2 linked regions of the Homo sapiens genome follow. The protein of the gene in region 1 interacts with the protein of each later gene in a pairwise test. Each region holds a gene or a part of one and is shown on either strand. Other genes may lie near its edges.

The links.
Region 2: the proteins of H2AC16 (region 1) and BRPF1 interact in binary tests that used the Homo sapiens proteins (3 or more experiments, as listed by UniProt).

Annotation. Positions count from the first base shown.
Region 1 is NC_000006.12:27,863,578-27,866,344, reverse strand, and holds H2AC16 (histone H2A type 1), read right to left. Parts: upstream 1,029-2,767; 5' UTR 991-1,028; coding exon 598-990; 3' UTR 547-597; downstream 1-546. UniProt on the Homo sapiens protein: Core component of nucleosome. Nucleosomes wrap and compact DNA into chromatin, limiting DNA accessibility to the cellular machineries which require DNA as a template.
Region 2 is NC_000003.12:9,738,211-9,742,029, forward strand, and holds part of BRPF1 (peregrin), read left to right. Parts: intron 1-788; coding exon 789-1,748; intron 1,749-2,568; coding exon 2,569-2,731; intron 2,732-3,097; coding exon 3,098-3,229; intron 3,230-3,814; coding exon 3,815-3,819. UniProt on the Homo sapiens protein: Scaffold subunit of various histone acetyltransferase (HAT) complexes, such as the MOZ/MORF and HBO1 complexes, which have a histone H3 acetyltransferase activity.

The sequences.
Region 1 (2,767 bases):
CAATTTGATATGACCGTGTCATTCTGTACTGGATTATTTTTTTTTCCTCAAGTCAGGTTCTCGCTGTCACCCAGGCTGGCGTGCAGTGGCGTGGTCTCGGCTCACTACAGCCTCAGCCTCCCCGGCTCAAGGGATCGTCCCACTTCAGCCTCTGTGAAGTGCTAGGACTAAAGGCGTGCACCACCCCGGTCGGCTAATTTTTGTATCCGCTATGATGCCCAGGCAGATCTCGAATTCATGAGCTCCAGCGATCTTCCCGCCTCAGCTTCCAAAAGTGCTGGGATTACAGGCGTGAGCCACTGAGCCTGGCTCTGGATTTTTTTTTATTGGTTCTAGTTCATATAACACGAGATGAATAAACACAGCGAACATTCTTGTAAGCCCTACATTAAATAACTAGTTCACATTCTGACTTAAACATGTCACCTGAATCCTGTAAGGTTTTTCCTAAAAGTCATTCCTAAGCTCTAGATGAAAAATGCTTTATCTTTTCATAACAAACGTTCCAAATGTTTAACCAGTGGCCCAGCTCTCCCGCAGAAATAGTAGGTGGCTCTGAAAAGAGCCGTTGTATTGGAAAGTGATTCTATGGAGACATTATTTGCCTTTGGCCTTGTGGTGACTCTCGGTCTTCTTGGGCAGTAGCACAGCCTGGATGTTGGGCAGGACACCACCCTGAGCGATGGTTACTTTGCCCAGCAGCTTGTTGAGCTCCTCGTCGTTGCGGATGGCCAGCTGCAAGTGGCGCGGGATAATGCGGGTCTTCTTGTTGTCGCGGGCGGCGTTGCCCGCCAGCTCCAGGATCTCGGCAGTCAGGTACTCCAGCACCGCCGCCAGGTACACCGGCGCGCCGGCCCCGACCCGCTCAGCATAGTTGCCCTTGCGGAGCAGTCGGTGCACTCGGCCCACGGGGAACTGGAGACCGGCACGAGAAGAGCGGGTCTTGGCTTTGGCGCGAGCTTTGCCTCCCTGCTTGCCGCGTCCCGACATGACGAAGAAACGATAAATGGAGGAACTGAGAACAGCCGAGAGAAGTTCACCAGAGCTCCACTACTTATAGTCAATACTGGGCGCGAAAATAAAGCTGTGCCATTGGCTCAAATTACAGTTTTATTTCAACCAATGGAATCGCTGTTATGAAACATGCTTCTTTGGATTGGACAAACGTGTATATGACGTCATCTAGAATCGCCACCAGTCCTACACACTATTTTATTAATCACCTCATTTGCATAAGAATTCGTGAACAGGACGTTACAACACACAGCTTTTTCTTCTTCTTCTTTTTTTGTTTTTTTAAGACAGGGTCTCCCTCTCGCCCGGGCTGGAGTGCGGTGGTACGATCTCCGGTCGCTGCAACGTCCGCTCCTGGGTTCAAGTGATTCTCCTGCCTCGGCCTCCTGAGTAGCTGAGATTACAAGCGTCAGCCACCATAGCCCGGCTAATTTTTGTATTTTTTAGTAGAGACAGGGTTTCACCATATTGGTCATCCTGGTCTCAAACCCCTGAGCTCAGGTGAGCCACCTGCCTCAACCTCCCAAAATGCTGGGATTAAAGGCGTGAGCCACAGCGCCCGGCGACTTTTTTTTTTTTTTTTTTTTTTTTTTTCCCTTGAGACAGGGTCTGGCTTTGCCGCCCAGGTTGGAGAGCAGTGGCGCGATCGTGGCTCACCGCAACCTCCGCCTTCCTGGCCGAAGCGATCCTCCTCCCTGAGCCTCCCCAGTAGCTGGGGTTACAGGAGTGCATCACGCGCCCAGCTAATTTTTTACATTTGTTTGAAGAGTCATGGTTTCGCCATGTTGTTCAGGCTGCTCTCGAACTCCTGACCTCAAGTGATCCGCCCGCCTCCGCCTCCCAAAGTACTGGAATTACAGGCGTGCGCCGCCGCGCCCGGCCGCTTTTTCCTATTCCTTGTACCCTTTCTGCAGTTAAACTACAACACGCCTGACCCCACCAAGTCGGCCACAGCCCCGAAAAAGGGTTCCAAGAAGACTATTACTAAGGCAAGAAGCGAAAGCGCAGCCGCAAGGAGAGCTGCTCCGTGTACTTGTACAAGGTGCTGAAGCAGGTCCACCAACACCGGCATCTCGTCCAAAGCAATGGGGATCTTGAACACCTTCGTTATGCCATCTTCGAGCGTATTGCGGGCGAGGCTTCCCGCCTGGCGCGTTACAACAAGCGTTCGACCATCACCTCCAGGGAGATCCAGACGGCTGTTCGCCTGTCACGCATGCTGTGTCCGAGAGCACCAAAGCCGTAACCAAGCACACCAGCTCCAAGTGAGCTCCTTGCTGGTTCGTCCACTTGGAACCCCACTAGGTTCTTCCTGACTCACACTCCACTAGGTTCTTCCTGACCCACACCCTAAGGACTCTTTTCAGAGATATTCACACTTCCTAAATAGAACTGACGCTCGTTTATCCCTAGTTTTGAAATGTTCAGTTAGCTTTAACCTAAAGCCTTTCATAAATGCTTCTTAATTTATGCAAAAGATACATTGTGGCCTTATGATATTTCCAATATTATCTGCTACTAAGTATTTTATGTTACAAACGTCAAATACACAAAACGGGAGTTTTATTGTGCGAATTTCACTTATCCAGGCTCAATTTCAACACCGAGAATCCCCTGTTGAGTTATTGTCTAGAAAACCAAGTATTTAAAGTAAAAGTCCTATCAACCTCTACTGAAATATCACTGGACGTTTTGCAGGTTACACCACAATTTTCAGGCCACCTGGTAGGATACTCAGTGACTACCATGTAAT
Region 2 (3,819 bases), on another chromosome or scaffold:
TTGAATGCCTCTGCCTCTGCCACTCCCTTGTTATGTGACCTATCTATGTTTTGATTAACTTCTCAAAGCTTAAGTTTTCTTATCTGCAAAATGAGGACAACAAGAACACTAACTCTATGGCTGTGGTAAGAATAAATGTAATAGTTAAGCACAATGCCTGGCTCATAGGAAATCCTCAGTAAACCTTAGCTATTATAATTGTTATCTCCCAAGGCTATCCAGTGAACAAACATAGCACCTAGAGTTTGACGGAGCCTTGAGCTGATGCTGACACTAGCTGAGAGAAGATCCATGGCAGCTCTAGTCGAGGCCCTGCCCACCAGTGCTAAAACAACTTATATGTAATTTGTCAATGACATCCAATGACCTTCCTTCTTCCCCGATTCTTCGTACCATCATCTGGACCACTCTAAGGGGTACTAGCTGCCCCACCTTCCTCCTTTTAGAGGAGGCTGGCTGAGCCTCTGCAACCCCAAGAAGATGGTGTCACATATAGCAGCTAGGACATGAGCTTTGCAGTGGCAGACCTGGGTTCACATCCCAGCTCCACCACTTTCTCACAAGTGAGCTGGGGCCAGGTGATTAACCTTCCAAGCCTTAGGTTTCCTTTTCAGCAAAATAGAAACGATGATAGTACCTATAATATCTGGAGTTAAGGTGAGGATGAAATGAGACAACACATCTGAAGGGCATAGGCACAGAGTAAGTGCTCAATGGCAAATGACCCATCATCTTTAAGGGAGGGAAATCTCAACCATGTGATGCTGAGTTCCCTGTTTGTACCGTAGGTACATCGAGAAGTCTGCAGAGGAGCTGGACGAGGAAGTAGAGTATGACATGGACGAGGAGGACTACATCTGGCTGGATATCATGAATGAGCGTCGGAAGACAGAGGGTGTAAGTCCCATCCCGCAGGAGATCTTTGAGTACCTAATGGACCGACTGGAGAAGGAGTCGTACTTTGAGAGTCATAATAAAGGCGACCCTAATGCGCTAGTGGACGAGGATGCTGTTTGCTGTATCTGCAATGATGGTGAGTGCCAGAACAGCAATGTCATCCTCTTCTGTGACATGTGCAACCTGGCCGTGCACCAGGAGTGCTACGGTGTCCCCTATATCCCTGAGGGCCAGTGGCTGTGCCGCCGTTGCCTGCAGTCACCCTCTCGTGCTGTGGATTGTGCCCTGTGCCCCAACAAGGGCGGTGCCTTCAAGCAGACAGATGACGGGCGCTGGGCCCATGTGGTGTGTGCCTTGTGGATCCCTGAGGTCTGCTTCGCCAACACGGTCTTCCTAGAGCCTATTGACAGCATTGAGCACATCCCACCAGCTCGCTGGAAGCTCACCTGCTACATTTGCAAACAACGGGGCTCAGGGGCCTGCATCCAGTGCCACAAGGCCAACTGTTACACAGCTTTCCATGTGACATGCGCCCAGCAGGCTGGCCTTTACATGAAGATGGAGCCTGTGCGGGAGACAGGCGCCAACGGCACCTCTTTCAGTGTCCGCAAGACAGCCTACTGCGACATCCACACGCCTCCAGGTTCAGCACGCCGACTGCCTGCCCTGTCCCACAGCGAGGGTGAGGAGGATGAAGATGAGGAGGAGGATGAGGGTAAGGGCTGGAGCTCAGAGAAAGTCAAGAAGGCCAAGGCCAAGTCCCGGATCAAAATGAAGAAGGCACGGAAGATCCTGGCAGAGAAGCGGGCAGCAGCACCTGTGGTGTCAGTGCCCTGCATCCCACCACACAGGTATGTGGGGAGCCGGTGGACAGGCAGATGAGGGAGAAAGGAGCCTCCAGGAGAGGAGCTGGCAGCCTCCTGAGTGGAATGGCAGGGCTGGGCTATCTTCCCAGGAGCTGCATAGAAGTTAAAAAGAACATATTTTCAAAACAGATAGTTGTCTTTAGCAGGTCACCTGACTTTCACATTAAGAGCCAGAAATGTCAGCTTTTATCTGGCATAGCTAACAGGCGTTTTGGAACTGCCCTTCATTTTGATGGTGTGGTTTGTTAAGTTGGGATGGAAGAGGATGGAACTGCCACTGGCAGCAATGGAAAAAATGGTCTGAATATGAAGAAACAAATAGAATGAAAAGCGGGGAAGGGGAAGCTCAAGAAGTTGTGAAGTGGTTACTGCTGCTCATTTGGGCTGTGATGGCCAGGGATTTTTTTAGTTCTCTTGTGCCGTTTATTTGATTTACTATATATTTCTGCTGTACAGTTGTACTTCATTTTAAAACCTTCAAAGGCTCAGTCTCAGTGGGGCTCCCAGGGTCAAATAGTACTCTGGGCTGCAGTGACTAGAGCAGTCTTAGGGGCAGAAGTCCCTGATTGCTGGTGTACAGGGTTAGGGATCTGGTTTAGTGCTGGGAGCTTGGTTTCCTGTCTGCCACGGTACCACTGATGGCACCACTCTTTCTTCCTTGCCTTAAGTCCAGAGTCCCAGGCCTTTTGGACAAGAGATCCTCTCCCTTCATCCCCATTCAGGAACTTTCACTGGCCAGAGACCCTTGCTCTGCTTAAGAGAATCAGGGCCCAACAAGTTTTACTCTTTGTTTCCTGCCTCCCAGGCTTAGTAAAATCACCAACCGCCTGACCATCCAAAGGAAGAGCCAGTTCATGCAGAGGCTGCACAGCTACTGGACACTGAAGCGGCAGTCACGGAATGGGGTCCCATTGCTACGTCGCCTGCAGACACACCTGCAATCTCAGAGGAACTGTGACCAAGTTGGGGTACTGTGTCCAGTTCCCTGTGGGCTCTGGGAACTAGCGCCAGGGGGACGAAAACCAAAATTTGCAACTGTAGTTTCCAGTGTCAGAGGGCTTAGACTCTTTCCTCCTTTAAGCTAGCCCTCAAACCAGGATCAGCATGGAATGTTCAATGAAAAGATGTTGTTCCTATGTGTTTATGTATTCATTCAACAAACACATACCAAGCATTTATTCTGCCAGGCCTTGGGGACACACAGATTGAGGCACTACCAATAAATTACTGTGCTCCCTCTTTTGGCTTGACCTGAGTTTCCTGGGCTCTCTTCTCCCTGTTGACCTTTCCTCTGGCTTTCTAATCATCCTCTGATCTTCGTTTTGCCTCTACAGAGAGATTCTGAGGATAAGAACTGGGCCCTTAAAGAACAGCTCAAGTCCTGGCAGCGGCTCCGGCATGACTTGGAGCGAGCTCGGCTGCTCGTGGAATTGATCCGCAAGCGGGAAAAACTCAAAAGGGAGACGGTGAGTGCTCCTGGGCCAGCCCTATTTTATAAAAGAAAAAACAAAAAATTAGCCAGGCATGGTGGCAGGCGCCTGTAGTCCCAGCTACTCGGGAGGCTGAGGCAGGAGAATGGCGTGAACCTGGGAGGAGGGGTTTGCAGTGAGCCAAGATCGTGCCACTGTACTCCAGCCTGGGCGACAGAGCGAGACTCCGTCTCAAAAAAAAAAAAAAAAAAAAGACCCAGGAGAAGGAATAGCGTGTGTACCCCAGCCAGATAGCAGCAGGGCTGACGCTGGAGTCAGGTCTCCTGGTGCTCGGTGTGCTTTTAGTTCTGCTGGAAGCAGAATGTCACAGGAGCGTATGAACAGAATCCTCAGTTATGTGACATAGGTAGCTGGTGCTGGTAGTTCAAGAAAGGGGGAAGCCAGAATTGTTGGTGCAAGTTTCCCTGGGTGGAGCCTCATAGAAGGTAGACCTGTATGAGTACACCCAGCTGTGAGGGTGGGAAAGAAGGCGGGTTCCCAGGCCAGCTGGGACCATATCCTCAGACCTCTTTGCCACTGAACTGGCCGAGGCCTGGCTGATCAGGCCTTTTTCTATGTTAGATCAA